Regions from separate parts of the Homo sapiens genome. Here region 2 is linked to region 1. Evidence: fine-mapped expression QTL. A gene starts in region 1. The other region holds a variant in brackets. All regions are shown on one strand. Distances are between the middles of the regions. Region 1 holds the start of LBR (lamin B receptor). Region 2 overlaps DNAH14 (dynein axonemal heavy chain 14).

Region 1 (5,523 bases):
GTGAAAAAACTTAACAAGCTCTACTAGTTTACAGAGATGGCAGCTAGGTTGGTAGATGAAAGAAAACACAAGTACTTATCTGGTGATTAGAGGATGTCAGTCAATTAACACATTAGGTAAGAGAGGCAGCTTTCTTCCCTACACCTACCTGAGATTGGGCATCACTGGGGTAATGAATGGGTTTGGGCTTGGAGTAGTGGGGAGGAGCCCACAAGTTTTCGGGATGAAGTCAGGCCTGGCTGAGTCACCCGAGGGGCACTTAGGGAGCAGGGGGGCAGTGAACACCTCTGCATGAGCAGGGGCATAAAAACGGAAGGTGACAACATCCAGCTTTGCCTATTTCAACATTTAGCTCAGAGCCTCCAAGTACAAAGAAAGAGGAAGGAAATGTACCCTCCTTCTCTCTTCTCTTGAGCCCCCTCCTCCTCCCTAGGCCCCCCAAAATCAAACCACTCTTACTAGTACTAGCTCTCCTACACTGGTCAGCCAGAGTTAAAAGAAGGCAATTATGTCTTCCTACAGGAAGATGCTCAAGTTGCAAAAAACTCTTTATAAACTTTTGAAACACAAGCCCTTCAGGACGCAGGGGCTACTTGAGGTTTTAAAAGACCCTTGAACAGTTTCTGCGTGTTCTTAAAAACTTATTTACTGGCATCTTTCCATTGCACTTACACACCACATACACAGTATCTGTGTAATATAAACGCAGGCCAGTGCCAAAAAGATTCTTATCAATTATTCTGGGTTAAACAAGTTAACACATATGGTGGATACCTGTTAGGTCTCTAAAGCTTACTTTTTAAAAGAAGAATTAAGATTTGCTTGAAAAACAAACAAAATGAACCGGCATTCTTCTTAGAAGACCATTATCTTATACACAAATGTTCCAAAAGATGAAGCCAACAACATGATGTGCACCCCCACTTTACACAAGATCCACACACAATTGTCAAACGTGAGGATACAGTGCAATCACATCCTAATATATTCCCCCACAGGAGTGAAATAGCCAGGATGGCACACAAAAGCCCCACATTTGTTCGTGTCACTCACTATGCACTCACCTACAGGAGTCAAGATACACACAGGATTTTCTTACAAGAGATGTTTTAGGCAAGTGTGTTTGTAAAGAAAAATTTTGTTCACTGCACCCAATGTCCTCATTCGCCATAAACAGGAAAAACACGGAGACCCTCAGGTTTTTCTCTATTAAGCCAGATGCCCGCTAACTTCAGAGTCAACTGGCACTGCAATCCTCACACATTCCAGCTCCGGTATGTTACTGTTTGTGAACACAACAATTCTCTGCTCATTAACATTACAGGGGTCTCCAGCCATCTTTCCTTCACTTCTCCAAATTCATCTAAACGTGGCATAGAGCAAGACGCTCGAATGACGTTGGACAGCTTCCTTTTCACACCTGAGCCCCGGTAGCCCCACTAGGCAAAATGCAAACAGGAACCCCGGGCCTTGCTCCGCGCCCTTTGCTTCATGAAGCAACAGAAAGGCCACCTTCCTGGCTGTAAAGGCAGAAGCGCCTTCTTCCCCATAAACATCCTTGGGCAGCTCATCATTCCCCTCCTGCTCGTTCTTCTCCCTCTTCCCAGGCAGCCTGAGAAACAAAACTTAAACTGGACTTGTTGCCTAATCTAAATTAGGATCCCTCTGCTCTTCTCCGTAGCTCCATCTTCTCCCACACACCAGTTACTACAATGCGTAACTACAGATCTACACGTGTTTACGTGCAAGGTCCCCGGGGGCCTGTTCACCCTGGCACTGCCCAGGCGCCGCGCCTCGCGCTGCAGGTGTCCACGCGCGGACCACGGTATCTACCGCGCCCTCGTGTGAACACCCGACCGGGCCCCGTAATCACTCTGGGAAAGCGCCTTCAACAAAGCCCTCCGAAAGCAAGTGCTTTACTAAGTGCCCCTTGAGGCTACTGGCAGTGCGAGGCTGGCTGTCATTAGAACATTTTTCTGAACCCTCAAAAAGGTGAAAAAGCAGGACCGTGCTTTAGCAGGAACACGCACACCCGCCTAAATACCCGATTTTTGAGACTGTCCGGGCGAAGGAATTCAACGCATAGGAGCGAGCAGCCATGCAGTGTGCCTGGAGAATCACCAAACCGCGACGACCACGACCCTCAAAGCCAGTGACAAGCAGCGCGAATCTAAGCCCACCTCGGCCGCAGACCCTTCCCCGTCCCGCCAGGCCGCCGCGCCCTGTCAGCCTCCTACTGCAGGACCGCGGGGCCGCCTGCTCATCTGTCAGACGGGCGCTCGGAGGGGCCGGGAGCCAGGCTGCGGTGGGGCAGGACAAAGGCGCCCACGAACCCTCCCTGCCGCCGCCGCTCCACAGCCGCGCCGCGCCGCCAACATGGAGGGAAACGTCCGCAGTTTAAAACCCCCAGCTCCATTTCCGCAGCGGGCCCGGCTCGGGCGAGCTCCAGCCTCGCCCGCCGCCGCCCCGACCACCCGACTGGGCCAGAAAAGGCGAGGAGGGGAGGAGACGAGGAGGCGAGGAGAGGAGGGGAAGGCCGCCGCGCCAGGCCCCGCGCCCAGGGTCCCCGGCCCGGCCGCTGCGCCGGCCTCGGGCTTCCTCCCCCAGCGGCCCCTCGAAGAACGCGCCGCGGGGAGCTGGGAGCAGGGCGGGGGTGGAAGCACTCACCTGCGCCAGGTTCCGGCGGTGACACGGACGGCTCCCGGAGAATAGTCGCACAGCAACCCGGCGGCAGATCCACGCGCGCGACGCTACCCGGCCGCGCTCTCGCGCCCCGCAGTCCCGCAAGCCGGGCGCGCGCCTCCCCGGCCCCGCCTCGCGGCGCTTCTCCCCTCCCCTCGCCTCCCCTCCCCACCGGCGAGGCCGCCCGGGGCTCCCATTGGCTCCTCGACCTTTTGAATCATCCCCGGCGCTGTCGATTGGTCGCGCGCCGTGGCGCGTCCGCCCCGCCCCACCCTGCCTGGGGGCGGGGAGGCCGGTGAGCGGGGGAAACCGAGTCTGGCGGGGCGGCCCGGAGCGCGACGTTTGCCACCGCCTTATCTCAGCCGCCCAGGCGCCCTCGCAGCACACGGAGCCCGCGCGCTCCCGCCCTTTCCCTCCCAGCGCTCGCAGCAGTGTTTGGGGTGCCAGGTGGCTTGGCGAACGAGATTTTTTTTTAAGCTACAAAGAAAACTAATACATTCTTGAAGTGATCACCAAAGATCCGAGCTCGAAAGCGTTTCTCGGTAAAACACTATGAGTGCCCTCCTTAGCGTGTTAAAATCCCACAGAAGCCCCTGGACCAAGCAGCGGCATCGAAGGCGAGCAGGGGCGCTTTTGTGTCCGCGGCCGCTGAACCTGCGTAGAAGCGAACCCGGACCGATGCTGGGACCGGCGGCGGGAGGGAGGGGGAAGAATGGCCGAGGGCTCCTACGACTTACGCTGCGAGGAGGGGCTCGGTTGTTACCCGAGATGCTGTCGAGATGCAGTAGAAAATCCCCAACACCGCGGAGCGTGGAACAAGAAGTTTTATGCGTTACACACCGAAACACAACTTGACCTGCAACCTACAAGCCTGGTTTTAATTGAACCCCAAAATGCTGAGTCATGTCATTGTTGACTCCGAATCTGTTACGGATCCTAAGCTTTTTTTTTTCTGCTAGTTTTCATTATCGGTTAGTTGATTTCCTTCCTTTGAGGTCGAGAGTTTAAAGCAGTCCATTGAAGTTCCCTATTTTGCAGTGTGGTTTTAATCAAAGTATTTCTTAACACCCTAACTAGGTATATTTAAGTGAATTGCTATTTTGGAAGCATTATTAAATTGTAATAATGAATAGAACTTTTCATCTATAGCCTAGCTTCAGCTTTCATTTTCTCATAGAACTACAAAACACCCAGGTTTACTTCTTAAAAAAAAAAAAGTGAAAATACATCGAGTTTTCTCAGTCATTCACATGCAGTGTGAATGAGTTCATCAGAGCCTTTCCTGAGAAGTTCTGACATCAAATTGTCATTGCCATCGAATTTGCCCTTGGTGGAGATCTGTGCAACAGAAATGCACATCGCACTCCAAAGTCAGAAAATCTTTTATTTTTGACAAACCCCCAAGTCTCAATTGTCTTAACCCTTGACATAAGATAATATTAGTCCTACCTCATAGAGTTTTGCAGTAAATTACACAGAAATAAAAGCGCTTATGGGGACCTAAGACAGATCCTATCCCAAATAGCCAAGCAGTGAGTGCTACACTATTCTTTTCTCATATGTTCTACCCAGAATCAAGATTTCACTGGATTTCCCTTGAGGTGCACATTTCCTGGATGATTTCCACTTGTGAAATAGAAGAAGATTCGTTTCAAAAAAAAAAAAAAAAACACCTGGCCAGGCGCCGTGGCTCACGCCTATAATCCCAGCACTTTGGGAAGCCGAGGCGGTTGGATCACCTGAGCAGGAGTTCGAGACCAACTTGGCCAACATGGTGAAACCCCATCTCTACTAAAAAAATACAAAAATTAGCTGGGCACGGTGGCGAGCACCTGTAGTCCCAGCTACTCGGGAGGCTGAAGCAGAAGAATCGCTTGAACCTGGGAGGTGAAGGTTGCAATGAGCTGAGATCATGCCACTGCCACTCAGCCTGGGCAAGAAGAGCGAAACTCTGTCTCAAAAAATAAATAAAATAAATTTTTAAAAATTTTAAGAACCTTATTTTAAAGATCAGGTTTATAAAGTCTCATCATAACAAAATGAAGCCAAAACTTTGTAAATTAACTAGAGTTAGCTTAGCTAACATTTTACCTAATAAATTACTAATGACATTTTTAAAACAAAACTGATTTGACATCAGGAAAACTAAGCAATAATTTTTGTTCATTTCTACTTCGTGGACTCAAACATACCATGAACAATCAGATCTATATGTAGGCTGCTTTCTCAACAAAGGAACTGTTTGGTATTTTTCTCTTCTTTTTTAAGTCTACTAAAGGCTGTGTAAACTTGGAAGTGGGGAATTTTCAGAAAGTTCTCAGAAAGATGCTTGTCACTCACAACTAGCAAGTTGTGGGTTTTCAGAATCTATAAAGTAAAAGTCACTTAAAAGTCCGCATCTTGGCACCATTGTTGTTAATGAGGCCATGAGTGGCAAAGCCCCTTTCCCCATTCACATAACAAAAGCAAAGCAAAACCCTTCAGTCCTGCCACTAAAGCCAACCAAAACACACATGCGGCCAGGAAGCTTTCATATATAAAATACAGGAACCCCCAGCGGAATGCATTCCAATGTGGCAGTTATTTGGCTCTGGTCTCCAGAGGATCTCGGTTCCCAGGATTGAAACATCTCTTTCAGGAAAGACGTGTAGGTAAAGTTTCACGTGGCGTGAGATCCAGTTGGATTCTTTTGGTACTGTTACATAAGGAACAAACTTCTGTATGCTGCAAACTGCAGAAAGCCTTTATTCATAAGGTAGAGGTACCTCAAAAGCTGTCCGATAAAAACACATTTCTACTGATGATGTTTGATATGGTTTCTATTCACACAGAAATGGAGCT
Region 2 (5,000 bases), 49 kb before region 1:
ATCAGATGACAGAAGGGTATTCTGAAATTTGTATTTCAATTGTTCAGTTGCTTTAAAACACTAGGAATTTTATGACAGTTCCAGCTTGCCAGCTCTTCCTGTTTTTTGTTATAATCTTGCTTCTTCTGCAGGTAATTTTTTTAATCAGTGACTGTTATTTGATTTTTCCCTCTGACCTTCATTAATTCTTCAACATTTTCCTTAATGATATCAAGAAAGCCACCATCACCCACTTTCCTGACCATATGAACAATGCATTTCTCTTCTTGGTCAGTGGTCAATTATTCTTAAGATCATTCTCACATTCCTTCTATAGGTTTCACTAAAGTAAAATGATTTGTTCAAGCCTTATTGCATTCATTATCTATGGGTGGTCAGAATCACCCTCACCTTTAAAGCGTTTTTTTTTTCTTTCTCTCTTTTCCCAAAAAGAAAGTTATACATGCATATCATATGCACATTACAATACAGTAGTCCCAAATGTTGCTTTTGACAGTGTCTATAATATACCACATGCAAATAAGAAAGCCTTCGGTATAAAATTTCATGGGAAAATATTGTCTTCAAGCATTACTGAAAGTAGGTATCTTACTCTGGCAAAAACCAACAAAGTGTTCAGAAGTAGCAGGATTGAAGAAAAAAGCTAACAAAATGTTAAATTTTCAGATATGTCTGCCAGTTCCAGGATCTGCAAGCATAAAGGACTACATACACATTATCCAGTCCTTACCTGATGATGACCTTCCCGAGGTCTTAGGAATACACCCAGAGGCCATCAGGAGCTGCTGGGAGACCCAGGGCGAAAAGTTTATTGAAAATCTGATTGCCATGCAACCAAAAACTACCACTGCCAACCTCATGATCAGGTAAGAACTCGCTAGGAAAAATTGTTGGTCAAAAATTATCAGGCTGGGTCTGGCAGCTCATGCCTGTAATCCCAGCACCTTGGGAGGCTGAGGTGGACAGATTGCTTGAGCTCAGGAGTTCGAGACCACTCTGAGCAACATGGTGAAACCCTGTCTCTACAAATAATACAAAAATTAGCTGAGTGTAGTGGTGAGCACCTGTAGTCCCAGTAACTTGCGAGGCTGAGACCCTGTCTAAAAAAAAAATTCATTTGAAGAGATATATAGAAAAGTATAGTCTACATGGTAAAGAAACTAAATTCTACTTCAATGAGTTCCTTATGTATTTAAGTTCTAATTTTTCAATTTGTACGTCTAACAAATTTTAACACTTTTAAAAGATATTTGAATGTTTGACCCCATTTATAAGCTTAAACATTTTCAAATATATTAATATTCATTATAAAGTTAATGTACTTCAATTTGTCTTCCAGACCTTCTCAAATCTTTGAGTAACTTTTATAAATCTAATAATCAAATAAATATGGTGAATCTTAAATTTTCTTGTTCCCTAATATTTTATATCAATCTAACAAGATTTCAACCTAAAATCATAAATCAGTTTCTCAATTATCTCTTTTAATTGGGGTCACAAGACTGACCCCAATCTAACACAAGGTATTACGAGGCCCAATTCTCTTAAACATTACAAATATTTAAGATACCAACATATTATAAGGAAATGCTTTTAATAAACATACTAGATATGCTTATTAATGTCCCTTTGGTCACTTTGAGAGGCTATAATTATCCCAGTCTTGCTGCCTTTGCTTATTAGAGACTTGTCTGTGGGACTTAATCCAAACATCTATCATATTCAATGTAATTTCCTTAGTGGTAGCAAATCTTTGCCCTCTGAAGGTAAGCTTGATTTTTGACACCTTTTGACCTTTTGAATTATTTGAAGCTACCTGGGTTGAATTCTAAGGAGAAAATCAACTTTACAGTCAAAACAGTGTGATGACAAAGTAAGGAGCCATGTGACCTCAGGCGATCTGTAAACTGGTTTGGAAGCAGCACTGTTGGACTAAATACTTCTTGGCAGCTTTAAGGTTATTGCTTACCTTGAAGGATAATATTCATTTGACTGTGAAACCTGGAGTGTTTGTTGAAAAATCAGTCCTGGCCGGGCGCGGTGGGCTCACGCCTGTGATGCCAGCACTTTGGGAGGCCGAGGCGGGTGGGTCACGAGGTCAGGAGTTCAAGATCAGCCTGGCCAAGATGGTGAAACCCCGTCTCTACTAAAAATACAAAAAATTAGCCAGCATGGTGGTGAGCACCTGTAATCCCAGCTACTCGGGAGGCTGAGGCAGAGAATTGCTTGAACCCGGGAGGGGGAGGTTGCAGTGAGCCAAGATAGCAACACTGCACTCCAGCTGGGGTGACAGTGCAAAACTCCGTCCCAAAAAAAAAAAAAGAAAAGAAAAAGAAAAATCAGTCCC[G/T]GCTAGTAAATAGAGCAGCAGAACTCAAAAGAGATGTGCCCCATTTCCTACTCATCCACTAACTGTCTAAGGAGGTCCTCCCACCTCCCGGGGCCCTGGTTTCATCATCTTTAAAAGGATTCCAAAGAGCTCTTCCAGCTCTAGTGTTTAGTGGTTTTGCATAGTATCGCAGCCTCACCTAGGCCTGGACACGCGCTCCTCCTGTCACCACCCGCGGAGTGTGTGATTAAGAAGCCCTTCGTGTCAACACAGGAATGAGGCAAGCAGTGGAATGTTCCATGCGGCTGCTTCAGCGTGCTCTGTTTAGTTGCCTCCTCTTTTTCATTGTCTTGCAGATGCATGCAGATGATTATTTTACAAAGAAATCCTAAAAAAGCTTTTATAATACATATTTCCTTGCAAATGTCTAAAGTACATTGGACAGTTTCTCATCTACAAAATGAAATGAATTCCATGGTCTCTGTAAGATCATCCATAGCATAATTTTGTGGTTCTGTGAAGATACATTTATCTTCAGACGGAACTTAAGCAGAGGACCCTCTAACATTAGATAGATCTGTAGCTTGTTTTTCTCTTGATTTCTTTTATTTTATTTTCCTTTCCTTTTCTTTTTTTAAATTTTTTTTTTGAGATAGAGTCTCGCTCTGTCACCCAGGCTGGAGTGCAGTGGCATAATCTTGGCTCACTGCAACCTCTGCCTCCCGGGTTCAAGTGATTCTCGTGCCTCAGCCTCCTGAGTAGCTCAGACTACAGGCGCCCACCATGCCTGGCTAACTTTTGTATTTTTAGTAGAGACAGGGTTTTACCATGTTGGCCAGGCTGGTCTCAAACTCCTGACCTCAAGTGATCTGTCTGCCTCGGCCTCCCAAATTGCAGGGATTACAGGCATGAGCCACTGTGCCCAGCCAATTTTTATTTTTTTAATTGACATAATAATTGTACATATTTCTGAGGTACATAGTAATGTTTCAATACATACAATGTATAGTGATCAGATCAGGGCAATTCATATGTCCATCATCTCAAACATTTATCCTTTGTGTTGGGAACTTTCAGTATCCTCTCTTCTAGCTATTTGAAGATGTATAATCTATTTTTGTTACCTATACTCATCCTACAGTGGTATAGAACACTAAACATATTCCTCCTGTCTACCAGTAATCTTGAATCCTTTAACAAATCTCTCCCCATCTCCCCACTTCCTGTTCTGTGTCTCATTCTTCTCTTGGTTTTTTTTGCAGACCTGAGCAGAGTAAGGATGAACTGGTGATGGAAATTCTATCCGACTTGCTAAAGCGGCTGCCACTGACAGTGGAGAAAGAAGAAATTGCTGTTGGAACTCCAAGCACATTGAAGAGCATGATGTCAAGCTCCATTTGGGAGTCTCTTTCTAAAAATCTCAAAGGTGAGCATGGGACAGGAGCTTTTTCCCCTTACCTCACTCTCCTCAAGAAAGGACTCTGGTGTCAGGAGTAAGGTAAAGATAAGACAAAAATTCTGTAGAAGTGAAAATACTGAGATAAGATGGAAAACTCAGTCTCTGCCTCCTCTCTCCAAGTTGAAAGACAGAGAGCACAGAAGAAAATCACGCTTTAGTTTGGGGGTGGGTAGCGTGTGGCACTGAAATCAAAAGTGAAGAAATAACAAGTGTAGCAAACTAGAAAGCAGCAACTCTGCTTTGGAGATTGTCAAGAGTTCTAGGTGCCTGTTCTCTCTGCCTCTCTGCCTTCTGGAACAGCGGAAGTTTAGATGGACCTTCTGCTGAAAGACCACTTGACTCCAAGAAGCTAAGGGGAATCAGGGCAGGCCCAGGAAGACAGAGGAAGCCTGATTGCCCAGAGATGACTCCAAACCCAGCTCTAAGTGGCTAAATTGCTAGACTATGATAATTTTCCCAGTTAAATTTTAATACCCATATTTTATCCCTTTGCAGAAGTTTATTTGGGAACCAAATATTGAGCAATAGTTTATCAAAACAGTGTCATTGTTGAGTCTCAATCAAAGGTCAGCAAATTAGGGCTCGCAGGCCAAATCCAGCCCACCATTTGTTTTTGTACAGCCTGTGAACTAAAATGGCTTTTGCATTTTTTAATGGTTAAAAAAAATCAAAAGAAGGAATATAGTTTGTGACACATAAATGTTATATGAAACTCCAATTTGAGTGCCATAAGTAAAGCTTTACTGGAACACAGCCACACTTACTCATGACATATTGTCTATGCATCCACACATAGTAGATAGTGTGGCCGCACCCACACTACAAGGGGAGAGCTGAGTAGCTTTCACAGAGGTGGTGTGGTCCCCATACCCTAAAATGTTTGCTATCTGACCTTCTACAGAAAATGTTTATCAACCCCTGGTCAAGACACACAAAATTCCCTTAACTTTCAAAGCCTAAGTCCCTCCATGTAAAGCCTCTTTTTAATCTGTAAAATATCAAAATTTTATTTCTTTTTAAAATCCAGATCACGACCCCCTTATCCATTGTGTCTTGCTAACCTTTTTGAAGCAAGAAATTAAACGATTTGATAAGTTATTATTTGTCATACATAAATCCTTAAAAGATCTTCAGCTTGCTATAAAAGGAGAGATCATCCTCACCCAAGAATTGGAGGAAATATTTAACTCTTTTCTTAATATGAGAGTGCCTACA

Evidence for each region. PIP is the estimated chance that this variant, and not a neighbour inherited with it, causes the effect.
Region 2: its variant is fine-mapped to the expression of LBR in whole blood (TOPMed, PIP 0.98).

The regions. Positions count from the first base shown.
Region 1 is chr1:225,425,287-225,430,809 of GRCh38, forward strand. LBR (lamin B receptor) reads right to left here and starts at 2,752. Exons shown (of 14, transcript NM_002296.4): 1 at 2,668-2,752. RefSeq lists enhancers at 1,162-1,834, 1,835-2,506 and a silencer at 2,339-3,168.
Region 2 is chr1:225,376,571-225,381,570 of GRCh38, forward strand. It overlaps DNAH14 (dynein axonemal heavy chain 14), which reads left to right. Exons shown (of 86, transcript NM_001367479.1): 79 at 667-866; 80 at 3,589-3,752; 81 at 4,813-5,000. Among named protein-coding and RNA genes, the nearest start is that of LBR, 49 kb to the right of the region's middle. The variant G/T (reference allele first, on the strand shown) is at 2,348.